Linked DNA regions of Homo sapiens. The protein of the gene in region 3 interacts with the protein of the main gene of each other region in a biochemical or structural test. Each region holds a gene or a part of one and is shown on either strand. Other genes may lie near its edges.

The links.
Region 1: the proteins of POLR2B (region 3) and WWOX form a complex in vitro, tested with the Homo sapiens proteins (one study listed by BioGRID).
Region 2: of the proteins of POLR2B (region 3) and CDK7, one has a biochemical effect on the other in vitro, tested with the Homo sapiens proteins (one study listed by BioGRID).
Region 4: the proteins of POLR2B (region 3) and SUB1 form a complex in vitro, tested with the Homo sapiens proteins (one study listed by BioGRID).
Region 5: the proteins of POLR2B (region 3) and CTDP1 form a complex in vitro, tested with the Homo sapiens proteins (one study listed by BioGRID).

What each region holds. Positions count from the first base shown.
Region 1 is NC_000016.10:79,209,022-79,214,180, reverse strand, and holds the end of WWOX (WW domain-containing oxidoreductase), read right to left. Parts: exon of another isoform or gene 2,574-5,159; coding exon 2,385-2,573; 3' UTR 1,514-2,384; downstream 1-1,513. UniProt on the Homo sapiens protein: Putative oxidoreductase. Acts as a tumor suppressor and plays a role in apoptosis. Required for normal bone development. May function synergistically with p53/TP53 to control genotoxic stress-induced cell death.
Region 2 is NC_000005.10:69,250,147-69,256,548, forward strand, and holds part of CDK7 (cyclin-dependent kinase 7), read left to right. Parts: intron 1-598; exon of another isoform or gene 599-682; coding exon of another isoform or gene 683-685; intron 686-2,271; coding exon 2,272-2,305; intron 2,306-4,455; coding exon 4,456-4,523; intron 4,524-5,313; coding exon 5,314-5,382; intron 5,383-6,402. UniProt on the Homo sapiens protein: Serine/threonine kinase involved in cell cycle control and in RNA polymerase II-mediated RNA transcription. Cyclin-dependent kinases (CDKs) are activated by the binding to a cyclin and mediate the progression through the cell cycle.
Region 3 is NC_000004.12:56,990,722-56,997,123, forward strand, and holds part of POLR2B (DNA-directed RNA polymerase II subunit RPB2), read left to right. Parts: intron 1-26; coding exon 27-177; intron 178-3,353; exon of another isoform or gene 3,354-3,449; intron 3,450-3,682; coding exon 3,683-3,795; intron 3,796-3,925; coding exon 3,926-4,145; intron 4,146-4,529; coding exon 4,530-4,688; intron 4,689-6,402. UniProt on the Homo sapiens protein: Catalytic core component of RNA polymerase II (Pol II), a DNA-dependent RNA polymerase which synthesizes mRNA precursors and many functional non-coding RNAs using the four ribonucleoside triphosphates as substrates.
Region 4 is NC_000005.10:32,593,169-32,599,570, forward strand, and holds part of SUB1 (activated RNA polymerase II transcriptional coactivator p15), read left to right. Parts: intron 1-5,792; coding exon 5,793-5,901; intron 5,902-6,402.
Region 5 is NC_000018.10:79,744,385-79,750,786, reverse strand, and holds part of CTDP1 (RNA polymerase II subunit A C-terminal domain phosphatase), read right to left. Parts: intron 1-6,402. UniProt on the Homo sapiens protein: Processively dephosphorylates 'Ser-2' and 'Ser-5' of the heptad repeats YSPTSPS in the C-terminal domain of the largest RNA polymerase II subunit. This promotes the activity of RNA polymerase II.

The DNA.
Region 1 (5,159 bases), on a different chromosome or scaffold from region 3:
GTTGTGGAGAAAAAATAGAGGGGAAGGGGAATAAGAATGGGGTGACACCATGAAGACAGGGATAACGTGAGCAGAGACTAAAAATCAGTGAGGAAGAAAGGCATGCTGGTTTCTGGAAGGAAAGCATTTCAGCAGAGGAAACAGCAAATATGCACCCCTTGAGTTGGGAGTGTGCTTGGCATGTTCGAGGAACAGAGGAAGACTAGAGTGGCTTCTAGTGGATAAAGTGCTGGAAGTTGAGATTAGAGAGGTAGCTGGAGACCAAATTATAAGAGAAGTAGGGTAGAAAAAAATTAACCTTAGTGAGCTGAGAAGCTGTATCAGTTAGCTTTTGCTGAGTAACATGTAATCCTGAAACTTAGTGGCTTAAAATAAACTTTTACTATCTTTTGCATTGCTGTGAGTGAAATGTGCAGTTTCTTCTCCTCTGAATTGGCACAGCTGGGGCTGGATAGTCTGGGATGGCCTCACTTACATGTCTAACTAACTAACTGCTGGATGCCGGTTCTGGGAGTGACTACGTGTCTCTCATCATCCAGCAGGCTAGCCCAGGAGCCGTTCCCTATGATGGAAGTTGCAGGGTTCCAAAGATCAACAAGGAAAGGCAAGCCCCAGTGCAAAGCACTTTCCAAATTGGCCAAGGCCAGTCACATGGCCAAAGTCAGAGGTCATATGGGAGGGGTGATCCCCTCCAGGTGTAGATTCTGAGAGTGGAGTTCTGACGGCTGCTTTTGCAAATGACAATAATGTCTGAAAAGTGACATTATCTGATTCATAGTTTCAAAGGTCCTGTGATAATAAGGATTACGTAAGGAAGACTATAGCCAGATGGGAGGATGTGGCAAGGCTATGGGCCACTGGAGGGCAATGGTGTTTGTTTGTTCGACTGCTCTGCACCACAGATGCAGAGGCACAGAAGTTCAAGACATTGTCTGGCCTGAAGCTGCCATGATCAGGAGGGGGAACAATGACACCCAGCCTCCACACCTTCCTGGTATTTCAGCAGAAGCATTTTCTCCGTCTTGCCAGAGTGGACTTTCTCATGTGCTTGCTGGAACGGGCTGGAAATCATGGTGTCCATGAGATGGGATGCGCAGATAAGAGCTTCTGCACAGCTCCCATTCTCAAACATAGAGATACCCGCTAATCACTAAGTACTTGCTAATTGCAGGGGAGCAGACCATTGAGGACTAAAATAACTCACTGTAAGTAAGTAATAACAAAACATCTTAAGGTGAAATGAAACAATAGTCATTTTTCTTTTTTCTTTCTTTAACAGAAAATATGCTGGCATGCTAATCGCGTGAGACAACTTGGCCCACGGACAGCCACAAAGCACAAAAACAAAACACAAACTCACTCAGAGAAGAAACAAGAATCGTGTTTTCCTGGCATCTACGAGAAGCGCTTTATTAGAAGCGCTTTATTTTTCCTCTAGATTTCTTTTCTAAAAAATGAAAAACAAAAACAAACTGAAACAAACATTTAAAGAAACAATACAAACTTCAGGTGATGATATTCAAGCATGTTCTTTTATTAAGCATAGGATGCGAGGCACAGCAGGAGGTTTAAGTACAATGTGAAAGCAAGAGAACTGAGACTGTGATTGACAGACAAAGGGATTAACTAACGTTTTATTCTCTGCCCCCCAAAATATCCTGTGTATTCTTAAGTATATACGCTTCCCTTCCTGCCTTTCAAGGTATCTAAGGAATGATTTGAAAAATTTGTTATAATCTCTAAAGAATTTTTTGCATAGCATTAGCAAAGGAGTCTATGACAAGTACTTTGCCACCTGGTAGTTCTGCGTATTCTACTCCCTCTGGGTGTCACTGTCATCCTCACTGGCTGGGACAAGGTTCTGAGATTTGTCTCCCCAGCAGTTGCTAAGCTGGCTCAGTCTTGGTCAGGATGAATGAAACAATTATCTCCTGGATCAATGCAGCAAGGAGCAGTGAACACTTGCTTTTTCTTCCCTAAGTAGGAGAAGGCCAGCCCCCGGCTGCAGTGGTGGCCGTGGTGGTAGCTGGATGGGACGAGGGGACCTCAGGCTATTCTATAACAGTAAAAGAAAGAGAATTGCTGGTGCTTCTCCAGGGAGATACGGAACCTACACACCAAGCAGGTTTTTACTTTCAAACAGGCCACCACCAGAAAGCAAAGAGACCTATGCCTAGCCCAGCCCCAGAAAAGTGATACTTTACCCCAGGAATTCCCTGCTTCCCATTGGTACTTAAGATTTTTCACTCTGTTGTGACTGCTCTTATTTCCTTTACTCTTGCGGATCTGTGTTGGAGGGACATTTGGAAGGGGCCCAGCCCTGGCACTTGCGTGAGGGGACACACACAGGGCGGGTGTGTGTGCCCATCCGCTCTGAGCTCCACTTAGCCGGACTGGCTGCCAAGCCGTTCTTGGATCAGCCTCTCGCTGAGCGCCCACAGGGTCCGGGCCGTCTCTTCGCTCTGAGCTTCTGGTGAGGGCATGCAGCGGCAGCAGTTGTTGAAGTACATCCCTCCCAGACCCTCCAGTTCTGGGACAGCAGCACAGTACACGGTGGTGGCAGCTCCCTGTTGCTGGAAATCCAAGAAGAAAGACAAAAAAAAATTTTAAGAAAAGGAGTGATGAGATGGCGTCATTTCGACTGCCTGGGCATTAGCAGGCCTCCCCCACCTGGTTCAGTTTCAGCTGGATCTTGGCATAGCAAAGGGTACTGGGCTGAAAGCACATGACTGTAAAAAGTATAATGTGACTATCCTGGAAAAACGAGTTCATAAACTCCGCTTGTAAAGCTGGTGTAACTTTTGACACCTCATACAGGGACAGGCTTGGAAAATAAATACACATATCAATACGTCGTGGCAGGCGCCTCTTCCACACAGAGAAAAAGATGGTATCCTTCTGAACGTGCAAGAACAAATTCATCCAACCCCTCAACTTCTCCATGTATAATGTAATTCGATACCAAATCGTTTGTAGAACCTTCTGTCTGACAAACCAACCACTCTTAATTGTGGTCCATCAGGTAGAAAACCCAAGTGGGGCTGCTGCCAGATCATCCCTTTATGCTTTGCCCACGGTGCTGCTAGGGGAAGGGTTGGCAATGTTGTGTTAAAACATTTAATGCACACACACACACACACACACACTCCTCACCATACATTCATACTTAGCACAAACACATAACACATTAATTCATCCAGATCCCATGAAAACCTTTTTCTAAATGTCATATTTGACCCAGATTTACAATGGGACCACAGGTAAGGGGGTACATTTCCTCCCAGCCCACTTCAAAATGTAAGTTGCAAAGAGTGCAGCTGATCACTTTCATTCACCTTTTGAGTAACAGTTGCGGCTGTGGCTAGGGACGTGTGCAGTGATGAGGCATCATATCATCCAAACTGACAGAATACTGTCAGGGATGCTATAAAGAGGGCAAGAAATCACTTTGCTTTGCAAGCCATAATTAAAAATAATAGGCTGCTGTTCAGAGGGAGACATGGTCGGCACGTCTCTAATTTAAAACCAATACAGTTTATCTGGCATCTTATGATTATTTATGTGTTTCAGAGCCCTAGCTGCATCCACTAATTTTCAGCTGATGAGAGGGAGAGGGGTTGCAAGAGAGGACCGGAAAAGGTAACTGAAGATAAGCTCGCCCCCACAAGGAAAACACTAAGGAACTTTGATTGTGGGGGAAATGGCTTTCCGACCCGACCCAAAGCTTATCATTTTTCTGCCCCTGCAGGGTTTACATTGTGACCATGCAGGGTGCTTACTGGAGGAGTTTCCCTCAAATGGTCTGGTTTGCAATCACTATGCTTGCATTCTAGGATCCCTGGGAGAGTCAGGTCCATACTGAGAAATAGGGTCCCAAGGAAGGTGTTACGACGTGAAGAATCTGCCATAAGGCAGACTTGGGTTTGTTGTTGTCATTGTTGTTTGGTTTTAGCTTCTTCAGTGTCAGGATATCTAGTAACAATGGAGTTGGTCTGAAAACTGAATGGTCAAATGCAGTCAAGTGATACGACTCTGGGCGGGGTGTGGACCGTGAGTGAGACAAAGACTTGGGTTTTGATAATAACTGGCTGCTTGATGATACTGGACAAGTTCCACTGGTCCTGAATTTGAATAACTGACATGACTTGAACTTAATAGTAGCTGGTTTGTTACCTCCCCAATCTCCCTCCATTATCATGCCCACTCCAAATAGCCAGATATTATCCTGGATTCAGCTGTTTCTTTTCCCATTGATTTGTGTGGCTCAAGTCTAATGGAAATGAGTTCATGTCATCCAAATTTCCTTTCACTGAATTATTATTCCTAATAACCCTGAGCTTAGCACCTGGCACATTTATCTAAACAACTTCAAGGGGTTTATCTGGCTCTTCTGCATCCCATGTGGGGAAAAGGGAAGCAGAAGTGCCTCTAAAGACAAATTGGAGAATTGAGATGCTCATCCAGCTAACTCAAGCCAAGTATTATTTTGGCCTGGAATCTTAGAGTTCTGGTGGAGATGGTGTTTTGTATCAACTTCCAGATATCTGTCATATATTTTCATTTTACCTTGCAGCTGCCAAAACGACCAGAGTGGCCAAGTGACTTGCCATTAACTCCCGAGTGGTGGGAGAATCCAGCTCACCCATTTCAAGTCCAGCCTCCCGCCCTCTATGCCACAATGGTTATACTATTCAGCATTCAAACGTCATGACAGACTGGCCTTTCACTGTTCTGCCAAGCGTGAGGAAAGACCAAAGCAGTCCGTTTGGGAAAGCAAAAAGCAGAATTCTTCCTAACCTGATAAAATATTTTGCCACTATGACCTACTGTAATGATACCACGTTGCACTCTTGCATTACTGGAATGGTATTTTTGCTAAGAAATTCTGCAGTCCCATTGATTCAGAATGCCATTGTTGCAGGAGCTGGGGACCTACCTTTTCCTTCCACGGAATCTAAAGGCAATTACAACTGGCTTCATTTCATGCCAACCTACATTTGGCTACAATGCTGAGAGCCATACCTTTTTGAAAAGCCTAACTTTTTATCAGGAGATGGCTTTGATTCCTTTGCCACTAGGCTTGGGGTGATTTACCATCTAAATTCCATCACAAGTGGCTCTGGCTTTGTAGAACACAGTACACAGGAGGGGCACCCGAA
Region 2 (6,402 bases), on a different chromosome or scaffold from region 3:
CTGTACATTGAAGAGTCAGGTATTTATTATAGTCTTCACAGTCTGGACTTGTTTGTACCATTCTTATTGGAAGGTATTCCAAGTATTCAAAGGGAATAGAGTGTTGCAATCTATGTCTTTGGTCACTGTAATCGTATCTGCATTAGGGGGTACCCCGAACCCAGTAATGCTGTAGTTCTTATAGACTTATAGAGGTACCATCTTGGTGGTCTTGGATAAGGTCCAGAATTCTCTGTATTACCAGACTCTGTATTACCATTCTTTCTTCCCCTTTCTTCAGGCAGAGGAGTTGCTCCTGTGTCCATCAGCACCACAGGCCCATGAAGAGGGGATTATTGCCAGGGTACCACCAGTGTTCACTTAAGGCCCAGGGCTCCTCAGTCAGCTTATGCTGGATGCTGCCAGGCCTGGGACTCATCTTCAGGGTAGTGGGTTCCCCTCTGTTCCAGGGGTAGGTCCAGAAATGCCATCCAAGAGCCAAGGCCTGGATTCATGGACCCTAGTAGCCCACCTGGTGCTCTTCCCCAGGGCAACCAAGCTGGTCCCTAAGCTGCAAGACAGAATCTCCTTTACTCTTCCCTCTCATTTTCTCAAACAGGAGTCTCTGCTGGTAGCCACTACAGCTGTGAATGTGCTGTGTCATACCTGAAGCCAATATGTCTCGGAGTTTCACCTGAGGCCCATGGTGAGGCCCTGGTTACCACTGCTGATTATTCAGGGCCCAGGGGCTCTATAGTGAGCAAATCATGAATCCTAAATGGTCTACTTTAAGAAATTCTGTGGGTTTTTTTGTTTGTTAGAAGTAGAATCGCCTGTTCTGTTGCCCAGGCTGGAATGCAGTGGTGCAATCATAGCTCACTGCAGCCTCGAACTCCTGGGCTCAAGCAATCCTCCCACTTCAGCCTTCCAAGTAGATGGAACTACAGGCACATGCAACCATGCCCCGGTAACTTTTTTTTTTTTTTTTTCGAGACAGAGTCTCGCTCTGTCACCCAGGCTGGAGTGCAGTGGCACGATCTCGGCTCACTGCAAGCTCCGCCTCCTGGGTTCAAGCGATTCTTCTGCCTCAGCCTCCCAAGTAGCTGGGACTACAGGCGTGTGCCACCATGCCTGGCTAATTTCTGTATTTTTTTAATAGAGACGGGGTTTCACCATATTGTCCAGGCTGGTCTTGAACTCCTGACCTCGTGATCCACCTGCCTCGGCCTCCCAAAGTGCTGGGATTACAGGCATGAGCCGCCGCACCCAGCCAATGCCCCAGTAACTTTTTACATTTTTTGTAGAGACGGGGTCTTGCTATGTTGCCCAGACTGATCTTTAACTCCTGTACTCAAGCAATCCTCCTACCCAGGCCTCCCAAAATACTGGGATTGCAGGCATGAGCCACTTGTGTTTTTGTTTTTTTGTTTGTTTGAGACAGTCTCTCTCTGTTGCCTAGGCTGGAGTACAGCAGTGTGATCATGGCTCACTGTAGCCTGGGCTCAAGCAATCCTCCTGCTTCAGCCTCCTGAGTACTTGGGACTGTAGGCACGTGCCACCACTCCTGGCTAATTTTTAAAAATGTTGAGTAGACACAAGGTCTTGCTATGTTGCCCAGGCTGGTCTTAAACTCCTGGGATCAAGCGATCCTCCCACCTTGGCCTGTCAAAGTGTTGGAATTTACAAGTGTGAGCCACTACACCCCGCCAGTCTTTTCTTGATTACTGACAGTTTTCTAAAAAGCAGTGAGAGAATGTTCTTTACCCAGGTAATTTATTTTGTGTAAGACTAAACCTGTTAATGTAATTTGTTATGTTTATTCAGAGTAACAACATTTTAACCATCACAATTTGTAATTTTGCTTTTTGAAAAATGTGGTGTCTAAGAGCATATTATTGGGCTTATTACCAACTCTACAGCATGTTATTTTCTGTATCTTTCCTCCCAAGTAGCCTAATTTGAAGTTACGTATTTATTTTTAATCAGGGTACCCTTAGTTATTTGGTCCACATTGAACCTTGAAAAGGTAAAATAGATTTTTCTTAATTTTATTATTTGAATGTGTAGTTCAGAAACTTAAGGGACAAGGGTAGGTATTTGATTCTCTCTTATATTGTTAATTTTATCTTTCTGATCATGATTCCTACTCTCTTTTTGCCTAGTAGGTACATATTGGTTGCTAATTGTTTTTTTTTCTGTGGCGAAGTATTTGAAGTATTTACACATTATTCATTGATTCTAAATAATTTAACACATTTTTAATATATTTGGGTTTTTTTCCGTTTCTACCAGATCAAACTTGGACATAGATCAGAAGCTAAAGATGGTAAGTATTTCATGTAATCTGACAGATAGGAAAAGTTTTCTCCTTTTTTTTTTTTTTTTTTTTTTTTTTTTTTAAAAAGACAGGGTCTTGCTCTGTCACCCAGGCTGGAGTACTGAGACACAATCGTAGCTCACTGCAGCCTCAAACTTAGGTACTCAAGCAGTTCTCCCACCTCAGCCTCTTGAGTAGCTAGGGCTGTAAACATGTGCCACCACTTGTGGTTAATGTTTTATTTTTTGTAGAGATGAGGTCTGGCTGTGTTGCTCAGGCTTCTCTCAAACTCCTGGCCTCAAGCTATCCTCCCACCTCGGCCTCCCAAAGTGCTGGGATTACAGGCTTGAGCCACCATGCCCAGCATAAAGTTTTCATTCTCACTGAAGAAACGAGCAAAGTATGAATTAATAAGTTAGTAATGGTTCTGGATAGAGTTACTGCAGGGTCCCCGAAGAGTAAAGATAGACTCAGCATAGAGAAGGAGTATTTGGTGATTTTTACTTACTGGATATTCAGAGAAACATTCCAAATCACCCACATAAATGGAAGGCAGCAAGCTTAATTAGTTTGTCTTTCTGTCTTCATTACTGTTTTAGGTGTTACAAGCCATTGTTTTTTCTGTTTCTGAGTTTCTAATTACTTTGAAAATTCAGGATACATTTTCATGAAAGTACATAAAGCTTACTATGGAATAGATACATGAGGAAATTATTTCATTAAACTTTCTTCCAAAGTCTTATTTATTAGGATTCATCATAAAATAGCTCTTACAAAAGAGACCCATTGTCTGTGTAAGTGCCAATACTATATCTTATTTTTATTTTGTTTATTTTTTTTGAGACAGAGTCATGCTCTGTTGCCCAGGCTGGAGTGCAGTATCGCAATCTCGGCTCACTGCAACCTCTACCTCCCGGGTTCAAGCGATTCTCCTGCCTCAGCTTCCTGAGTAGCTAGGATTACAGGTGCACACCACCATGCCCAGCCAATTTTTTGTATTTTTAGTAGAGATGGGGTTTTGCCACCTTGGCCAGGCTGGTCTCGATCTCCTGGCCTCAAGTGATCTGCCCACCTAGGCCTCCCAAAGTGCTGGGATTACGAGCCACCGCGCCCGGCCTGTATCTAATTTTTAATTTTGAAATCTGTCATTTGTATTGGAAAATATACTATCTTATCACTAGTTTGCTTTTAGCACAAACAATATGCCACTAATATTTGTAGGGCAAGAGTAGGGAAGCTTATCACCTATATGCTGCACACTTATATATGTTGTTAGTCTAGTAGTGGTGTTCAGATCCTGGTATAGATAAGGTGAAATATTTTTCACCATTTGTCGTAGTCTTTGTTAAGCTATTTTAAAAGTAAAGCAATATTGGCCTGGTGCCATGGCTTACGCCTGTAATCCCAGCACTTTGGGAGGGTGAGGTGGGTAGATCGCCTGAGCTCAGGAGTTCGAAACCAGCCTGGCCAATATGGCAAAACCCCATCTCTAACGAAAATACAAAAAATTAGCCAGGCGTGGAGGTGCACACCTGTGGTCCCAGCTACTCGGGAGGCTGAGGTGGGAAAATTACTTGAGTCTGGGAGGTGGAGGCTGCTGTGAGCCGAGATCATGCCACTGCACTCCAACCTGGCTGACAGGGTGAAACCCCATCTCAAAAAAAATAAATAAATAAAAATAAAGCAATGTAAAAGAACAACAGATTTGACATAAAAATTGTCAAAGTAGCCCTTATTTTTGTGGGTAATGTTCACTATTTTCTGAGATTACTAACCTTTCTTTAAAAATATGTGTTTGTGGCTGGGTGTGGTGGCTCACGCCTGTAATCCCAGCACTTCAGGAGGCCAAAGCGGGTGGATCACGAGGTCAGGAGTTGGAGACCAGCCTGATGAACATGGTGAAACCCCGCCTTTACTAAAAATACAAAAATTAGCCGGGCGTGGTGGCGCGTGCCTGTAATCCCTGCTACTCTGGAGGCTGAGGCAGGAGAATTGCTTGAACCCGGGAAGCAGAGGTTGCAGTGAGCCGAGATCACGCCACTACACTCTAGCCTGGGCGACAGAGCGAGACTCCATCTCAAAAAAAAAAAAAAAAAAGAAGTGTTTGTAAGGTTTGAGATTTCAGAATTATTCACTTTTTGCTTTGCCTTTTTATATAGGTATAAATAGAACCGCCTTAAGAGAGATAAAATTATTACAGGAGCTAAGTCATCCAAATATAATTGGTGTGAGTATGATCAAAACTGTTACTGGGATTTGGGACTCTGCCTTTTCTTAATATAATGGATGTTGATTAAAGGCTCAGCAAGATGACTTGTTCTGGATGAGCCTTGTAGAAGCTTAAAGGAAATACATTTTCTATCCCAGTTGTTTTGGTAGGCATTGTCTTCAAAACTATACCACTGATTAAATAAATGAAATATTGACATGTAGGCTAATTTTGTCGGAAATAATTTTGAAGTCTAGGGAGCTCTAGCATGTAGTGGCTGAGAGTGTCAACCTGAATTCAAAACCTTTCTTTCTGCCTGTGTGAGACCTTGAGTGTGTTCACTCACAACTCCCCAGAGTCCCTGCCTCATAGGGAAGTTGTGAGACTAGCCAATTGAATAGATGTAAAGTATCTGGAATAGTGCCTACCATAGAAAATGTATTCATTCATTCAATGATAGCTGCTGTTATTTAGAGGATTTCTTAAGAATCACATTTGGGACTTTTCTTTTGAATTGGAGACTGGAATGAGGTTTTCATTGGTTAATTTCTTAATTCTAACTCCAAATATTTGGGGAAAGAGGTTGGGTATTTTTTTAAGTAAAATTTAATATTTTTATGCTTCAAAATACTAATTCCTTTAGTACTGTCCAAAAAAGGACAAATGTCAAATTTAATCAAATGATTTAAGCTTTATAGGGAATTACCAACAGTTTAAATGCTTTTTAAATTTTTAAAAATTGCCTCAGTTGCTATGATACTGTCAGGTATTAAATAGTGAATCACATTTTAATTTTTTAACTTTGCAGCTCCTTGATGCTTTTGGACATAAATCTAATATTAGCCTTGTCTTTGATTTTATGGAAACTGATCTAGAGGTAAGATTAAGATTCCTGGAGAAATTCCTTTGTCCCAGTTTATCAAACAAGAACCTAAATATTTGTTTTCTACCCAAGAAGATACTGGTAGTAAAAGAAAAAAAGCTTAATTTTGTTGAAATTTGGATGTACTCTGAGGCAAAAGGATCTCTAGTTATTTTCTTCTAATCATTTAGTGATATCCCCAGTGTTACATACAAAGATTTGGATTTCATTGGCATTTCTGCCTTCTAAGTTCCCATAGCTAGTTGACGTCATTTTTGGAGAAATGAGCATTAGACCTATAAGATTTGTTTGCTTTTTTTTTTTTTTGTGATGGAGTCTCAGTCTGTTCACCCAGCCTGGAGTGCAATGGCGTGATCTCGGCTCTCTGCAGCCATCACCTCCTGGGTTCCAGTGATTCTCTCACTTCAGCCTCCCAAGTAGCTGGGATTACAGGTGCCACCACGCCCGGCTAAATTTTATATTTTAAGTAGAGACGGGGTGTCACCATGTTGGCCAGGCTGGTCTTGAACTCCTGACCTCAAGTGATCTGCCTGCCTCAGCCTCCCAAAGTGCTAGGATTACAGGCATGAGTCACCATGCCTAGCAACCTATAAGAATTTAAAATTTATTTCTGGCCAGTGCAGTGACTCACGCCTGTAATCTCAGCACTTTGAGAGGCCAAGGCAAGAGGATTGCTTAAGCCCAGGAGTTCAAGACCAGCCTGGACCCCATAGATCCTGTCTCAGCTTTACAAATTATATTAAAAAATAAAGAAACTTATTTCCATATAATCAGAGTAATGTCATTCTTTTGAAAGCCAAGTTTTTTTGTTTGTTTTTGTTTTTGTTTTGTTTTTTTGAGACAGAGTCTTGCTTTGTTACCCGTGCTGGAGTACAGTGGCGCGATCTCAACTCACTGCAACCTCTGCCTCCCAGGTTCAAGCAATTCTTGTGCCTCAGCCTCCTGAGTAGCTGGGATTACAAGCGCCCATCACCATGCCCAGCTAAAATAGAGATGGGGTTTCACTATGTTGGA
Region 3 (6,402 bases):
CTGACTGAACTCAAATATTTTCCCAGTTCCTATTTTGACGAGAAAGGCTTGGTTAGACAACAGCTGGATTCTTTTGATGAGTTTATTCAGATGTCTGTTCAAAGAATTGTGGAAGACGCTCCTCCTATAGACCTACAGGCTGAAGCTCAGCATGCTAGTGGAGAAGTTGAAGAACCGGTAAGATAGTTCTAATAGTTACACAGGTACAAGAAGCGTATTGGTTTGAAATTTTAGCCCTTCTCTTACCTGGCTTAAAGGTTAAAAAAAGTCAGTTGGAGCTTTTAGCAAAGTACTTACAGCACCGTCAATCACTTTCTGATTTATTTTCTCTAATGAAGAGGTGTGTTTTTTTGCAAGTTATCCCATCCTTATTCACATAGTAGGTATTGAATAGCTGGGAAGAGAGGACTCTGAAATATGAACAAATAAGAGAAGTGAGCCAGAGATGGTCACATTGCTTTAGATAGATAACCCCGCTTTTTTCTCTCACAGTGTAAAAATAATAAAAAATGTTTGAAGGAATTTTCATCTGATTTTATATATTGCATGAAGTACATTATTATAACCATATGAGATAAGAAAGGAAAATCACCCAAACATAGCAGCTATCTTTACTAAGTTTCTTGTAGCTTTTGCTCACATATATGCAGGTTTTTTAGCATTGTTAAAATCATACTAAGGGTATAATTTTATAATTTGGTTTTACATGAGTGATTATAAGAAGGATGTAGTCCAAAATAATGACTGTCCCAGTTTTAGAGAAGTTGAGAGGCAGCTGTTGGAACATATTGGACTTTGAGAGACAGGGAAAACTGAGAAACAAAGTGAGGTAGGGAAAGCCCCCAAAATAGAGCTAGACACAGGGAGAGTTCATTGTTTCTAGCCTGATCAGTTTCTCTTCTGTGTAGCTTATCTCCTAAGTGCTGGTCTGTTATTTCCATTTTAGTTGGACATGCTGTACAGAATTTTGCTGTTAAGAATGAAAGTGATTGGCTCTTCTAGGGCTGTGCTGGAAAGGGGGACATTAAGTTTCTTTTTTATTCTTGGGTCATTTTTTTCTTTTTTACAGGGTCTATAGGTGCCCACCACCATGCTTGGCTAATTTTTTTGTATTTTTAGTAGAGATGGTGTTTCACATGTTGGCCAGGCCGATCTCCAACTCCTGACCTCAAGTGATCCACCTGCTTCAGCCTCCCAGAGTGCTGAGATTATAGGCATGAGCCACTGCACCTGGCTTGTTGGGTCATTTTTTCTTCATGGTCTTTGTATAACAAGCCAGATAACAATATAACATAGCAAATTGAACGTGCCAGTAACAGAAGTACTAAAAGAGGAGTAGATCTCTAACACCTAGTTATCAGAGCTTAGTAGAAAAGATGGAAGAGACTTAAATTTACTATGAAGAACTCTCTTAGAAGAGAAAAGGTGCTTAGTCATTTCAGCAAGGAAATATTTGGTGTGGCCGGTGCGATGGCTCATGCCTATAATTTTAGCACTTTGGGAGGCCGAGGCGGGCAGATCACCTGAGCTCAAGAGTTTGAGACCAGCCTGGCCAATATGGTGAAACCCCGTCTCTACTAGTAAAGTACAAAAATTAGCCGGGTGTGGTGCCAGGCACCTGTAGTCCCAGCTACTAGGGAGGCTGAGACAGGAGAATTGCTTGAACGTGGGAGACGGAGGTTGCAGCGAGCTGAGATCACGCCACTGCACTCCAGCCTGGGCGAGAGGTCGAGACTCTGTCTCAAAAAAAAAAAAAAAAAAAAAAAAAAAAGAAAAGAAAATACTTGGTGTATTTAGGCTGGGGACCACAATGATCAGTATGTGATTTTGGCTTATCTATTTTTTTTTTTTTTTTTGAGACAGAGTCTCGCCCTGTTGGCCAGGCTGGAATGCAGTGGCGCGATCTCGGCTCACTGCAGGCTCCGCCTTCCGGGTTCACGCCATTCTCCTGCCTCAGCTTTTTGAGTTGCTGGGACTACAGGCGCCTGCCACCACGCCCGGCTATTATTTTTTTGTATTTTTAGTAGAGACAGGGTTTTGCCGTATTAGCCAGGATGGTCTCGATCTCCTGACCTCATGATCTGCCCTCCTTGGCCTCCCAAAGTGCTGGGATTACAGGGCTTCTCTATTTTTAATAGGCATTAGGAAGATAAGATGGAACCCGATTGTTGAAAGCTTTGAATGTCATTGGATGTTATGAGGAATTACTGAGAGACTGTCAAAGAATATACATAAAGCATTATTTTAGAAAAGTTACTTTGGAAAGTGATGCTTGCTTGGAATAGAAAGAGGCTAGAGGAGGCCAGATGTGGTGGCTCATGCCTGTAATCCCAGCACTTTGGGAGGCCTAGGCAGGCAGATCTCTTGAGGCCAGGAGTTTGAGACCATCCTGGCCAGCTTGGTGAAGCCCCATCTCTACCAAAAAATACAAAAATTAGCCGGGCCTGGTGGTGCGCCTGTAGTCCCAGCTACTTGGGAGGCTGAGGCAGGAGAATCACTTGAACCCAGGAGGTGGAGGCTGCAGTGAGCCGAGATCACGCCACTGCACTCCATCCTGGGTGACAGAGTGAGACCCTGTCTCAAACAAAACAAAACAAAATGAAACAAAACAAAAGAGACTGGAGGAGATAAAAATCTTAGAATAGCCTATGATTAAGATAATAATGACCTAGACTAGATGATGGCACAGATAAGGAGTAGAGGATTGGCTTCCCTTTGGTTCGTTATCACCACCGTTCTCTTTGCCCTTTATCCAGCCCAGCTTGGGAGACTTGAGTGTCAATAATTAATCATTAGTAAAACGTCTGCTTACTCCTGTTTTCTTCTCTGAGACTTGATTTAGAGAAAAGTACACTATCCATTTATCTCTAGAAAGTTGTCCTCATGGATCTTGTTTTATTAGGCAGCAAGTGAATGTTTAATTGAAAAATTTCTTTTTTTTTCTATGAACTAAGCTATATTCCAGCCAGAGTTGGAAATTCTCAGCCCTTTATATAGAATGATTAGGATATTTTGTGTGTTTTTTAAAATAAAAAAATCTTTTTCTTTTGTTAACTCTACTCCTTTGACAGATTAATTTGTATATTTAACTGAAGAGAGGTTTATTTTTTAAAATGTTCTATTGATTAGATTAGAGCATAGTTCTAGTTGTCTGGATTTGTTATCTTTGTTCTCTGGTCACTTTGTATTTTTGATGATGCTTACCAAGGAGAGGGCACAAGAAACTATGTAGATCATTAATGTAAATCCATTTTAACTGTTTCATATAAACTCAGAGCACATGATGTGTACAGTCTTTACTTTTAGTATATTAAGTCTCTTTTTGTCTTCTGCCTTAAGAAAGCAATTAGCAGATCCTTCTGTAGTTGATAAGTGTGTGATGATTGGGTGTGAGATGTGCCTTCCTTAAACCTTGTTACAAACCTTGTTAGCACATTACCTGTCTAATGTGAAAAAAAATTTTTAAGAAAAGAGGAAAAAAGAAAGTGATTTGGTTTAAAACTTAACGTCTATGCAATATGGATATTGACTTTGGGAAGTCCCCATTTCAGTAAAATGGATTAATTTTGCCAGTTTGTAGAGTTGCTTGTACTTAAAATGTTAATGTCAATTAAAATGGAATCACTAAAACTTTTATGGAAAAAATTATTTACCCTTTTCATGTTTTTTTGTTTAATTTCAGCCACGATATTTGCTGAAGTTTGAACAAATTTATCTTTCCAAGCCTACCCATTGGGAAAGAGATGGTGCTCCTTCACCAATGATGCCCAATGAAGCTAGATTAAGGAATCTCACGTAAGAAAGAATTTTTCCTTGTCAGCAGTAGATACTGAAATAGAATTTTGAAAATGTAATTTTAACCACTTGAGGATTTGTTTTAACAGATACCCTATTGCTTAACTGTGATCTACTTTTATTTTCAAAGGTATTCTGCTCCGCTTTATGTTGATATAACAAAAACAGTCATTAAAGAAGGTGAAGAACAACTTCAGACTCAGCATCAGAAAACTTTTATAGGAAAAATTCCAATTATGTTGCGGTCAACTTACTGCCTTTTGAATGGCTTGACAGATCGTGATCTTTGTGAGTTAAATGAATGCCCTTTGGATCCTGGTGGCTATTTCATTATTAATGGATCAGAAAAGGTATAGTAACATTATTTTAAAAAATTACAAAATGGTAGTTAAAATTTAGTTTAAAGTTGAAATGAAAAAAAAAAAAAAAAGAAAGAAAGATTTTCCTGCAGGATAACCTGGCACTGACAGTTGACTTGTTTAGGGTATGACAGCTAAACTTATATAAACCAAAGCTTTATTTAGCTGTATATAACATGCACTGGGAATTTGGTCAGTTTTGGAGTTTATGTATTTCTATGAAGCATTTATGCAAAATGGAGTTTGTAAAGTTGAAGAATTAAATATTTCAGTGAGCCTATATGGTCAGATTAAATTAAGATGCAGATTTTACTCTCTTTTCTCTTCAGTGATGTTTTGGATTTTATGGCTGTAACTTTCTTATTGTCCAAATAGGTTCTGATTGCCCAAGAGAAAATGGCAACAAACACAGTTTATGTGTTTGCCAAAAAGGATTCTAAATATGCCTACACAGGAGAGTGTAGATCATGTCTTGAGAATTCTTCCCGACCCACCAGTACTATATGGGTTAGCATGCTGGCAAGAGGAGGACAGGTATGGACTGGATATGATGCTATTTGGGTTTATTCCTTTGTGCTTTGTTTTAAAATTTACTAGACTGCCTTCTTTGTCCATAGAAGCTTTTCTGGAGCATATTGTTGTTATATATCGTATTGTTTACCTATCGCTGTGTAACAAATTACTCCTCTAGCAACATTTATCATCTCACGGCTTCTGTGAGTCAGGAATCTGGGTGTAGCTTAGCTGGGTCTTTTGGCCAAGCAACTCTCACAAGGCTGCAATCAGATGTTTCCCTGGGCTGCCGTAATCTCAAGAGTCATTCCCATGGTTGTCTGCAGGATTTAGTTCTTCATTGGCTGTTGGACTGAGTCCCAGGTCTTTGCTCGCTGTTGGCTGGAAGCCTTTCTTTGTTCCTTGCCATGTGGGCCTCTGCGTATAGCAGCTGACAGCAGCATAGCAGCTTGCTTCTTCAGAGAGAGTAAGCAAAAAGAGCCATAGAGAGTACGAGCAAGGTGGAAATCAGTCTTTTATAACTTAAAAGTGGTAGCAACATCCTGTCATTTTTGCCATGTTCTTTTTGTTGGTTGCAAGTCAGTATGTCCAGCTCACACTAAAGAGGGTATTACAAGGGCAATAGTAGGAGGCAGGAATCATTGGGTACCAGCTTAGAAGCTGCAGACCACTGGTATAGTTATAAGCATAGGTTGCTTATAATAATGGAACCTGGTAGTAGCTAGCAGTTCTTAAATATTTGCTGTATGCCAATTCTGTTACTCAGATTGCTTGATTTAATTTTTACAGCTATCTTGGAAAACCTCTATTTCAGTTCATGTGTGTGTGTGTGTGTGTGTGTGTGTGTGTGTATGTATATGTGTGTGTGTGTGTGTATATATATATATATATTTTTTTTTTTTTTTTTTTTTGAGACGGAGTCTTGCCCTGTCACCAGGCTGCAGTGCAGTGGCATGATCTCGGCTCAGTGCAAGCTCCGCCTCCTGGGTTCACGCCATTCTCCTGCCTCAGCCTCCCGAGTAGCTGGGACTACAGGCGCCCGCCACCGCGCCCGGCTAATTTTTTTTTTGTATTTTTAGTAGAGATGGGGTTTCACCGTGTTAGCCAGGATGGTCTCGATCTCCTGACCTCGTGATCCGCCCGCCTCGGCCTCCAAAAGTGCTGGGATTACAGGCGTGAGCCACTGTGCCCGGCCTTCAATTTTATTTAATAATTATGCATGTGTGGGATGCAATGTGATATTTTGATACGTGTATACAATGTGTAATGATCAAATTAGGGTACTTAGCATACCTGTCACCTCAAGAATGTTTTTCATAATATTTTATTTGTAAGATAAGCATTCTTCCCATGTGCACAACATTGCTGGGTATTGTTAAGAGATCATGAAAACACACAATCCTTATTGAGAAGGTGGCCAGGTGTGGTGGCTCATGCCTGTAATCCCAGCACTTTGGGAGGCTGAGGTGGGTGGATTGCTTGAGCCCGGGATGTGAGACCAGCCTGGGCAACATGGCAAAACACTTTCTCTAGCAAAACAACAACAACAAAAACCCAAAAATTAGCTGGATGTGGTGGCAGGCACCTGTAGTCCCGGTTACTCGGGAAGCTGAGGTGGGAAGATGGCTTGAGTGCTGAGGTTGCAGTGAGCCCAGATTGGCGCCACTGCACACCAGCGTGGGTGACAGAGCCAGAGCCTGTTCCAAAAAGAAAAAAAGAGAAAAAAAAGAATGGT
Region 4 (6,402 bases), on a different chromosome or scaffold from region 3:
ACGCCTGGCAAATTTTCTTTGTTGTTGGTAGAAACAGTATTGCCCAGGCTGGTCTTGAACTCCTGAGCTCAAGTGATGCGCCCACCTTGGCTTCTGAAAGTGCTGGGATTACAGGCGTGAGCCACCGTGACTGGCCAAGACTGTAGACATTTATATGACTAGAAAGTAAGGCTAACACATGTATATTTTGACCTGTTGATAACTTTGAAAGGTGGAGTGCCAAGATTAAGGTGAGAATGGGAAAATTTAAGTTTTTTTTTTCCTATTGCTTATTTTTGCCTTGTTATACTTCTAGGTAAAAAAGATAGACAAAGTGCAGATGAACTATTTAGTTCAGAACACACATTTTAGAGATTCTGTTCTGTTAAGAGGAGTTTTGTGAAAACTAGATCTAATTTTAGGAATTTTCTCACCAGAAAAACGGAGCTTCATTTCTTAAACCCTCATCTGGAAAGATTCCTAAGCCTCCTAAGGCTGACATTGCACCTTTTGAAAGCCTGCCTCTAGGAGGAACATAGGTCATCTTTTCTTTTTTTTTTTTTTGAGACGGAGTCTCGCTCTGTCACCAGGCTGGAGTGCAGTAGCACGAATCTCGGCTCACTGCAACCTCCGCCTCCTGGGTTCAAGAGATTCTCCTGCCTCAGTCTCCTGAGTAGCTGGGACTACAGGCATGCGCCACCACCCCCAGCCAATTTTTGTATTTTTAGTAGAGACGGGATTTCACCTGGTTGGCCAGGATGGTCTCGATCTCTTGACCTCGCCATCTGCCTGCCTTGGCCTCCCAAAGTGCTGGGATTACAGGTGTGAGCCACGGCGCCCAGCCTAGGCCTTATTTTCAGAGTGGCTTTCATGGATCTAGTAGTGTAGGCATTATGAAATAATATGATACTTAATTTCATTGCCATTACAGCTTGATGTACATCAAACATCAATACATAAGCAGTTCTCTAAATGTATTAAAGAGTTGTACCAAAGAAAAATCAATAGACTTATCTTTTAAAGTCTGAAGTGATTGGGGCAGAATCGTGACTAGAGAGAAGATACTAGAGATGCTTACTTCCTGGTTCCTTCAGCTCTGATTTTGAAGAACTTTCTTCCATAGGGATGTAGTCTACCTGAGGTGACATCTGTGATAGTAAAGAGACTGGAGAATTATCTCATAATTATTTAGTACCTGTGTCTTGAAAGGTCAGAATAGTTGAGGCAGGAAACTTTAATCCATATTTTTCTTCAGAGTTAGGCACAAAGGGTCAGTAATACTGCTTTAGTTTATTTGATGATTTAAGGATACTTGATACTTTTAAATTATTTAATTTAAAATGATTATAACTGGTCATTTTAATCTGGGGCAGGAGTCCATAGAATTGTTTTTTAATTTGAGTTTTCTTTTTTGTGTTTGAAGGAATTATTCATAACCTTTATCACAGGGGTCCCTCCTGCACAGGAGGTGAGCGGTGTGTGAGTGAACATTGCAGCCCGAGCTCTGCCTCCTGTCAGATCAGCAGCGGCATTAGATTCTCATAGGAGCGCGAACCCTATTGTGAACTGCGCATGCAAGGGATCTAGGTTGTGCGTTCCTTATTCCTTATGAGAATCTAATGCCTGATGGTGGGATAATTTTTATCCTGAAACGATCACCTTTCCCCTTCCCTACCTGCTGTGGAAAAATTGTCTTCCGTGAGACTGGTCCCTGGTGCCAAAAAGGTTAGGAACCACTGCTTTATCAGATCTTCAGAGGGGACAGGGAATCAAATTCGTATAAGAATCACAGTTCTTTATGATGTATATGCTATTTTTTGCTGCTAATCTCCAGATTTTGTGGATATAAAATATATTGTCATCTGATTTTATTTTTTTCCAATAAAATGTGATTTCAGTGATCTTTATTTTTTCTATCTTTAAGTAATATATCCCTATACTACTATCTCATCACTTGTTTAATTTTTGCTAATAAGAATTTGTCAGTTTTACTCTTTTTTTCCCCCCAAGGGAGAGGCAGCTGTTGGGCAGATTCCTTTTTTTTTTAAAAAAAAAAATGTTTTTGAGGTATAGTTTATGTCCAATAAAACGCACACATTTAAAAGCATACCTTGATAGGCTGTGGTAAATGTACACGCCTTTGTGGCCAGACCATTTTCATCACCCCAGGAAGTTCCTCTTGGCTTTACAGTCATTGCTCATGTCCTAGGTAATCACTGATCTTATTTCTACCACTATAGATTTATGTTGTCTCTTCTAGAACTTTGTATAAATGGATACATGCAGTCTATTTTTTGTGTCTGGCTTTTGCTCAGTATAATGTGTTGAGATTAGTTCTTGTTGCATATATCAGTAATTTTATTGCTGAGTAGTATTTTGTATGATAATACTACAACTTGTAAATCCATTCACCTTGGGTGGACATTGGGATTGTATCAAGTCTTGGGCTATTAGGAATACAACTGCTGTGAATATTCTTGTACAAGTCATTTTGTGGACATTTTTTCCCTTTTGGGTAAATACCAGATACATTTGCTGAGTCGTAGGGTAAATGTGTAACTGTATAAGACACTGTCAAACCATTTTCCATAGTAGCTGTAGCATTTTACACAGCCATCGGTACTACTTAGGAGATTCCAGTTGCTCCACATCCTCGCTAGATATTGTCAGTCTTTTAAGTTTTTTTCTTTTTAGTTACATTGAATGTATAATGGTAGCTCATGGTGGTTTTACTTTCCATTTCCCTCATGTACATGTCTTAATTCATTGTACATCTTTAGTGTGTTTATTGGTTATTTTTATATCTTTTGTGAAGAGTATCTTTTGGCCACTTAAAATGCCAGGTCATTTGAGTTGTAACACTTTATATATTTTGTCAGATGTAAGTATAATTAATATTTTTTTTAGACTTCAGGGAAACTTTAGTTTTCAAAGCAATCTAGTTCAAAAATGAGTGGAGGTTAACAGAGAGGAAAATATGAAACCAGAGAGAATCAAACAGACAGAATAAGGGGGGACTGGCAGTTGGTCAGGGGCGTCTGTGACAGATCTTCTCTCTCTTGGAAATGAGGTCCTCACGGATTCTGGTCAGTTCATCATTTTCTTCACGTCCACGGTTCTGCTTCTTCCTCAGGCTCTCCTCGAAGGCCAAGACCCCTGTGGCTCCAACTTGAGTGAATATTTTCTTTAGGTTTCTGGTTTACCTTTTTATTTTCTGAAGCATCTTTTTAAAAAAGGCTTTAGTGTGATTGTCTATTCTATCGATTTTTCTCCTTTTTTGCTTAATGCTTATTTTCTGTCCAAGACGTATTTTGCCTACCATGGCCACAAAAATTTTTGCCAGTGTTTTTTCCTAGAAGTTTTATAGTTTTAGTTTTCACATTTAGGTCTATAATTCATGTAGAATTAATTTCTCTGTGTATGATGTAAGATAGAGATTTAGAGTCTTCCCCACCCCAAATGCAGATAGCCTGTTGTTTCAACACCATTTGTTGAAAAGAGTATTCTTATTCCTTTGAATTACCTTGGATTTTACCCCCTCCCCCCAAAAAAATCAGTGAATATATCCAATGCGTGTGTATTTTTTGACTCCGTTGTGTTCCACTGACCTCTTATGTCTGTCTTTACTCCAGTACTGCATTGTCTTCCCTTACTATATTATAGTGAGTCTTGGAAAGTGCTAAGAGACACTTTGTTGAGGAAAGCCTGTTCTTTTCTCTGGAATTTGTAATTTGTGGTAAGCAGATATATAAGATTTTTGAAAAATAATTTTCTGTGAATATTTTTAAGTTCTCAATCTGACTGTGAGTGAGGTGCATTAAAGATGTTATTTGAAGTGAACATGAAAAGGAAAAACTTGGTTGTTATTGACTGGAACTCTGGATTCGTATATTCAGAATGGTTGGTGAAGCAGTGTAGCTAGTTGCATCTGTGGATTCCTCTTGGTTGTAGTTTGTACTGCAAAATATTGCTTCCTAATGATTTTTTTTTTTGCTGGTAAAAACCATAAAAGTATATTCACATTGTTGTGAAACAGATTGCCGAAACTGTTTCATCTTGCAAAACTGAACCTCTGTGGCCATTAAACAACAGTTCCCCTTCTCCCAGCCCTGGTAACCACCATTCTACTTTTTGTTCCTGTGAACTTGACATCATGTAAGTGGAATCATAAAGTATTACCTTTTTCCTTTTTATGACTGGCTTATTTCATTGACGTAGTATGTAACAGGATTTCCTTTTTTAAAAGCTAATTGATATTCCATTGTGTGTCTATTCCACCCCCCCTCTCCCATTTTGTTTATCAGTTCATCTCTGGGTGGATATTTGTGTTGTTTCCACTTCTTGGCTCTTGTGAATAATGCTGCTATGAACATGGGTGTGCAGATGTCTCTTGGAGTCTGTGCTTTCAATTTTTTGGGATATATATTCAGAAGTAGGATTGCTGGATCATATGATAGTTTAAACAGCAATTTCCTTTGGTTGCAGTTTTGATACTGAGAGTAGTACAGTTGACCCTTGAACAATGCAGGGTCAAAATGCAAGGCACCAACCCCTGTGCAGTTGAAAATCTGGTTATAACTTTTGACTTTGTCAAAACTGCTAAGTATAGCCTACTGTTGACTGGTAGCCTTAACAGTAACATAAACAGTTAACATATATTTGTATGTTATATGTATTATATACTGTATTCTTACAATAAAGTAAGCTAGAGAAAAGAAAATATTACTAAGAAAATCATAAGGGAGAAAAATTACATTTTACTGTACTGTATGGTGTTTATCAATAACATTAGTTTACGTTGTCTGTTTATAAGATATGTCATCTGTTAATAAAATATGTCATCTGTTAGAAATTGTAGGCAACCACAGCTGCAGATTTCAGTCCGTGGTACATATCAAGCAATTCAACTTTTTTATTTTTATTTTTATTTTTATTTTTTTGCATTTTAAAATTAAAGACAGGATCTTGCTGTGTTGCCCAGATTGGATTCAAGCTCCTGGGCTCAAGTGATCCTCCGGCCTCAGCCTCCTGAGTAGCTGGGATCATAGGCATGCACCACTGCTTCTGGCAGTTTTTTTCTTGTGATGTCATGCCTTCTCTCTGCTTCTTGGGAGCACTTTCAGCATCACTAGGGGCACTTTGTATAGGACTCATGGTGTTATTTAAAGTTTATGGTATTGCAGTAATCATGATGAAAAATAATGTGAAAACCGTGAGAGATCACTTTTTACTGCAATACGCAATTTGTTGGAGACATGAACTGCTCAGCAGAGATGATTAGCATCACATGGTGTTTTACACAAGGTGTTTTAAGCAGATACTTGTAACATTTGAGTACACTGAGATAACAGGAAGTGGCTATGAAGTTAACACTAGTACACTACTGTAGTTAATTTTATGCAGTTATGAATTAATACTCCATCTTTGTTTACATTTCTCTCTAACTTCATATAATAGATTTGTATGTTTTATGATAGTAAGTGATAAAATAACCTCATATCTAGGTATGTTTTATGCATTCATGACATACCTAACTTTTTCTTAATGTTTTCGTTATTTCTAGGCTATGCAGTTGTTCTGTGAGTTTTTTCAAATTGTCAAGTCTGCAAAAATTTTTCCAGTATATTTATTGAAAAAAATATGCATATAAGTGGGACCTGCACAGTTCAGAGCCATGTTGTTCAAGGGTCAGCAGTAGTCATTTTCATGATTAGATGTAGAGTGAGCATGCAGCAAGTTGTGAATATGAATACAATTGAAACAGATACCACTCTTGAAAGGAGCACCTCTTTTTATGTTTGTTTCTTTTGCAGATTGGGAAAATGAGGTACGTTAGTGTTCGCGATTTTAAAGGCAAAGTGCTAATTGATATTAGAGAATATTGGATGGATCCTGAAGGTGAAATGAAACCAGGAAGAAAAGGTGAGGTCTAATTACTTGAATTTTATTACAGTGTTAGGACTAAACGACAACTTTTCTGAGTAGCTTACTTGAAATGTTGGCAGGACACACGGGGCAAGGAAGAGTCTTACTCAATTGATTCTCTATCTTCTGTAGTTATTTTGGACATGATACTTAACATTTTTTTAATGAGATGTCTTAATACAGCTTTTGGGAATAAAACCCAGAAAAGTAACACCCCTAATATCACTTCAGTTGGCTGCTAATTTACTTGAACAATTTTTAAAAAGGTTTATGCAATTCTGAAGCAGATTAGGCACTATCTGGGAACTTGTAAAATCAGGAATGGAAAATCTTGGTTTACAATGCTTCCTTTTGATTCAGCTCCTAAAAGCTATTCTTTAGGGCATTACTCTTCAAGCGGATCTCTGCTTTCCTTCCATTTGTGCTTCATCCAGTCCCAAGCCTCTTAGCATTGTAGAAACATATTTTGTATAATTCACCAAACAGCTAGAGAAGGTG
Region 5 (6,402 bases), on a different chromosome or scaffold from region 3:
ATACCAGCACTTTGGGAGGCCAAGTCAGGCGGATCACCTGAGGTCAGGAGTTCAAGACCAGCCTGACCAACATGGTGAAACCCCATCTCCACATTAAAAAAAAAAAAAAAAAAAAAAAGCAAAAAATTAGCCAGGTGTGGTGGTGGGCACCTGTAGTCCCAGCTACTCGGGAAGCCGGGGCACGAGAATTGTTTGAACCCGGGAGGCGGAAGTTGCAGTGAGCTGAGATCACGCCACTGCACTCCAGCCTGGGTGACAGAGCGAGACTCTGTCTCGGGGGGGAAAAAAAAAGGCAGAGTAGCGGGAAGTGCACGCCCTAATACCTGCCGTCCAAGTTTTAAACGAATTTATTTTTATGTCAACTGGAATGAATATTTTCTACTGAGAAATAAAGGCTTACTTTTAATTGCTACATGAGAGTGAGGGGTTGCAAATTAGCTGGGAGTGTCGGTGCATGCCTGGAGTCCCAGCTATTTGGGAGGCTGAGGAAAAAGGATCCTCTGAGCCCAGGAAATGGAGGCTGCAGTGAGCCTGGGCCATGACCGCAACACTGCACTCCAGCCTGGGCGACAGAGCAAGACCCTGTCTTAAAAAAAAAAAATCTCCGCGCACCTTTTCTGTGCACCTGCTTCCCCTCTGCACACCTCGTCTGCAGATCTTGTGCCCGTGCCTGTGTTGGGCTGGGCACCGCCCGCTTCCCCTCCATGCCTCATCTGCAGATCTTGTGCCCGTGCCTGTGTTGGGCTGGGCACCGCCTGCTGTTTGCTTTGAGGACGCCAGGCGTATCATACACGAGTTTCCTTTATTTCCAGTCTCTGCTGACACTAACGACGCTGTCAGGGCCACGAGTCTGGCCTCCGGTTGCTACAGCAACAAGCTTTTGGCAATTAACAAATTCATCAGTCATCTCTTTTCCTCCGCATACACGCTGACGGCTGTTCCGGGAAAACCCGGCTCCCATCCTCCCATTAGGCTTCCTCCACCTCACTCCGTTTTGAGAACTTGAAACAAAACAAGACAGAGACAGTTCTCGTAAACGTGAAGGTGCTGCCGTGAGGGGTGTCCCGAACCCCTGGAAGAGCTCAACCCACTGGCAGGTGGACGGGACAGGAGACCCTTGCGAACAGAGGCGGTGTTTCAGGCCCCCAGAGCAGTGCATGGCGCTGACCTCGGGGAGGGGGCAGTCATGACTGTGAACAGGAGAGCCGAAGTGCCCTCTCAGGTCGAGCTCGGGACGGTCACCAAGTCCAGGAGGGGGCGGGCCTGGATCTCGTGTGCACGGGGCGCGACCCTCACAGTCTGGTGCCCGGCTCCCTGCCTGTGTGCTGATGCCTTGCTCAAGGGAGCCCTGGCCCCTCCTAGTGGGGCCAGACTCGGGGGTGCTGGCAGGTGTGGTTGACTCCCTCACAGCGACGCTGGGTTGGACGTATCAGGGGCACTGAGCAGAGCAGGGGCAGGGGCAGGGGCCCCGACCGAAAGTGAAGACGGGGCAGACGAGAGCCAGGCGGGACCCTGGGGCAAGCAGGGAGAGGAGGGGGAGGGCGAGAGGTGCAAGAACCAGTTCCAACAATTCTTTTCTTTCTAAAATCAAGCGAGGAAGCCATCCGTGGCAGAGTTCTAATGGCAGCAAGAGGATGGCAAAGAATGGGAAATGCCAGCTGTGACTCTCTGTTTGAGGTTTAGAAATATGTTCCCCTCACAAGGCCGACAAAAACACCCAGAGTGCTGTTGACAGCAGGACACACCTTCAGAAACGCCAGCATAACTTGGCAGGGTGCCACAGGACCTGAACCGAGCCCACGGAAGGGACCACCTCAGCTCCCGCTGGAGAGCCCTGTGCACATGCACCAACACGGCTCACACACAGACACGGCTCACACACAGACACGGCAAACACACAGACACGGCAAACACACAGAACGGCTCACACACAGACACGGCTCATGTGCAGTCACGGCTCCCAGGCAGACACGGCTCCCAGGCAGTCACGGCTCACACACAGACATGATAATGATGACTCTAAAGGCCTCTGATCATGACTCTGTCGCTGTTGTGTGAGATGAGGCGGCCGCAGGCGCTCATGGCATTCGCTGGGAACAGTTTCTTGTGGATCCACAGCTGGGGACGCTGTGGTCTGGGGCTGTGCTAAGTGCTTCTTCCTTAGATTTTCACAAGAAACCTGCGGGCAGGCGCCACCATCCCCATCTCACAGCAGGGGCCTGGACCTCACGATGCTGGTAAGAATGCTGAGAAACGTCCTCCACGCACTTTGGAAAAACGTAGCTGACTCGGGAGACAGGGTCAGGGCTTCCATGAGGCTGAGTGTCTGGGACCAGGTCAACGGCTTCCACCCTGAGGGGTCACAGAGCCCGGGCTGGGGCGGCCCTCCCTCCATGGGTCCCCCCAGGCCCTGCGCGGTCCCTCCTGGTGCTGCGAATGCTGCACCCTCGGTCTCGCTCCGTGATGAAGTACAGGGAGCGCCTCACTAAGGTGGCACAAAACCTTTGCTCTTAGTTAAACGATGTTTGGAGCATGGGATTTAAAAATACGAGATGAATGGACTTTAGTCATTAAAAATTACCTCGAACATTAGACACAGCTGCAGACTATGGTTAGTAAATGTCCGCAACTGATACTAGCTTCACTTCCTCAGCATAACATGCAATATTTGTATTTTGTTCATACAACCAGCTGCACAGCTCCATAGAGAAATGTTAACAGATAGAATTTGGGGAAAATTTACAGCTTTAACATTTATCTCAAATTCAACATTGAATAAGGCAAGAATACAAACAGAATAATATATATGTATACCCCACCCCCATATTTCAGTTTTCCAAACACACTGGGCTGTCACAGTGCACACGATTTGGCACCGGAAAGATATCCGTCAGTGCGGCAAATGCACAATTGTGTCACACCAGCATCTAATCCAAAGGGGATGGAACAATCCACAGGCACAGGGTTCCCGTGGCCACTGCCAGCGTGGCCGCGGGAACAAAAGGGAAGACCAGTGCTGCTCACCGTGAGGCCGCCACGTCACTAAAAAACCCGTGCCGGCGTGGCCAGGTCTGCACGCACCGGACACCTGCAGGAGGCGCTGCGCATGGCGGATAATTTCCCCAGTGCACCCTGGAGTGGAACGTGGCGTGAGAGCGGCGTTGGGGCTGCCCAAAGCAGGTGAAGCCTCACACAAGCGTGGGGGGCTCCGCGGGGACCTGGAAGGAACCCACCAGATGACGTCAGCGGGACCCAACAGTCCAACCACCTACAACACAGGGCTGGGCTCTGCCAAGGAAAGCAGGCGGCAAGAGCTGGTCTGCTGCTGAGAGTGGGCCCGGGCCCAGGGAGAGCCAGCGGTGCCCTCCCTCCGTGGCGTCTGCACCTGAGTCCCAGTTCCCGCAGGGCCCCAGCGGGGATGCCACAGCTCTGGGTGTGAACATTGTCATGCTCTCCTCAGCAATCTCATGGCATTAGAATGAACCTGTGTGTGTTACAGGTGGAAGAGGGGCAGGGGCCCTTCCCAGCAGGGAGCTGGCCGGGCGCTCACCACACCTGACCCTCCCCTCCGAGAGCCTGCTGCCAGGCCGGGGCTCTTTAAAGTGGGAAGTTCAGTGACCTATTTTAGGGTAAGAATTGCTGCTTCGTGTATTGGTATGAAAGGACTGGAAAAAAATTAATGTCTCTCATTTAAAATTGGGCAATCATTAAAAAACACTATTTGATTCAGCAGCTTTGTACCCAAATTCTAAACTGCAGGCACCAGAGTGGCTGGCAGCACACGGTCAAGTCACGCGACCAGGAGCCTTTAGCCCTGTGCACCAAGGACCACTTTAACACCCCTAGGCACGGTAGGCACAGTGGGCACGGTGTTCACACCTGTAGGTCCAGCACTTTGGGAGGCTGAGGCGGGAGGATCGCTGGAGGCCAGGAGTTTGAGGCCAGGCTGGTCTCAATGGGCAACAAAGGAAGTCCCCATCTCTACAAAAAAATTTTAAAAACATTAGCCAGGCATGGTGGTGCGCACCTGTGGTCCTACCTACTTGGAAGGTTGAGGCGGGACGATCCCTTGAGCCCAGGAGTTCAAGCTTCCAGTGAGCCATGATCGTGCCACTGCACTCCAGCCCAGGCAACAGAGTGAGACCTTGTTTCTTAAGCCCCTAAGTATGGGGTGGGCAAGGCAGGGCCTCCTGACCTGTTCACAGTGACAGCAGTTGTCAAAACGCTCTCACTTTTCCAAGAGATGCAGTTTGTGTAGCTATGAAAACACGAAAAAGCAAACTTTCACAAACCAAAACTCCGCGTGCTATGTGAAGGGAGAACGAACACAACCTCCACCTCCGACACCCTCGAGTGGCAAACCCTGAAGAGACCGCAGAGTCAGAACACGCATGGGAGGGACGCACGGACAGAACGCGCATGGGAGGGACGCAGGGTCAGAACGCGCACGGGAGGGACGCGGGGACAGAACGCGCACGGGAGGGACGCAGGGACAGAACGCGCACGGGAGGGACGCGGGCACAGAACGCGCACGGGAGGGACGCGGGGTCAGAACGCGCACGGGAGGGACGCGGGGACAGAACCCGCACGGGAGGGACGCGGGGACAGAACGCGCACGGGAGGGACGCGGGGACAGAACGCGCACGGGAGGGACGCGGGGACAGAACGCGCACGGGAGGGACGCGGGGACAGAACGCGCACGGGAGGGACGCGGGCACAGAACGCGCACGGGAGGGACGCGGGCACAGAACGCGCACGGGAGGGACGCGGGCACAGAACGCGCACGGGAGGGACGCGGGCACAGAACGCGCACGGGAGGGACGCGGGCACAGAACGCGCACGGGAGGGACGCGGGCACAGAACGCGCACGGGAGGGACGCGGGGACAGAACGCGCACGGGAGGGACGCGGGGACAGAACCCGCACGGGAGGGACGCGGGGACAGAACGCGCACGGGAGGGACGCGGGGACAGAACGCGCACGGGAGGGACGCGGGGACAGAACGCGCACGGGAGGGACGCGGGGACAGAACGCGCACGGGAGGGACGCGGGCACAGAACGCGCACGGGAGGGACGCGGGCACAGAACGCGCACGGGAGGGACGCGGGCACAGAACGCGCACGGGAGGGACGCGGGCACAGAACGCGCACGGGAGGGACGCGGGCACAGAACGCGCACGGGAGGGACGCGGGCACAGAACGCGCACGGGAGGGACGCGGGGACAGAACGCGCACGGGAGGGACGCGGGGACAGAACCCGCACGGGAGGGACGCGGGGACAGAACGCGCACGGGAGGGACGCGGGGACAGAACGCGCACGGGAGGGACGCGGGGACAGAACGCGCACGGGAGGGACGCGGGGACAGAACGCGCACGGGAGGGACGCGGGGACAGAACGCGCACGGGAGGGACGCGGGCACAGAACGCGCACGGGAGGGACGCGGGCACAGAACGCGCACGGGAGGGACGCAGGGACAGAACGCGCACGGGAGGGACGCAGGGACAGAACGCGCACGGGAGGGACGCAGGGACAGAACGCGCATGGGAGGGACGCACAATCCAGTCAAACACGTATGTGTGCTGACCACTCATCTTCCCCACAAAAATTATCCATGCCACAGTCATTACAACTGCTTTGGAAAAGCCTGAAACTCACATGAACTTACATGTCGTGGGGACACCTCCTAATCCCAGGAGCACCTTCTGATTCCCCACCCCACTCTCAGGACCCACAAGTCTTTCCCATGGAGTGGCCTGGTACCCCTGCTGAGAGCCAGCTGGCCATGGACATGGGGCTGTTCTGGGATGGACACTCCTGCTCCACGGCCCAGCACACTGTCATCACACCAGCCTCCGTTACTCTGAAGCACGATGTGCGTCCTCTGGCCTGCTCTTCCTCAAGACCCTCCAGGGTCTCCTGCGTTCCTGTAAGAGCTTCAGGACTGGTCTGTGGCCCCTCCAGGGGCAGCATCCTCCCACGACGCCCCCCATGACTGAGTGGCGGGGGAACCTCCAAGGTCTCGCCATGGCCGCCTCTCCCTTTGCTTGTCAGTTTCTGCCACTGGTGAGTTGGTTCTCACTTCCGGTGCACATGTGCTAGCAACTGTCACTCTTCCCGATGGATCCAGCTCTTAGCATCGTAATTCCATCCGTTATCATTATAAAGCGTCCTTCTTTACCTGTAGAAGCATTCTTTGTTTAAATTCAGTCTTCTCTGATATTAGCGGAACACTCCAGCTTTCCTACGGTGATGGCCTCTGACCCAGTTGTCCATCCACTCATAGTTAAAGCTCTGAATCCCCTCACGTTCACACCGCCACTCTGCTTTGTTTCTCATGCCTCATGTAGTTTTAGTTCCTGTCTTCCCTTTTCTGTTTTCTTTTGCATTAAGTGAATACTGTCTA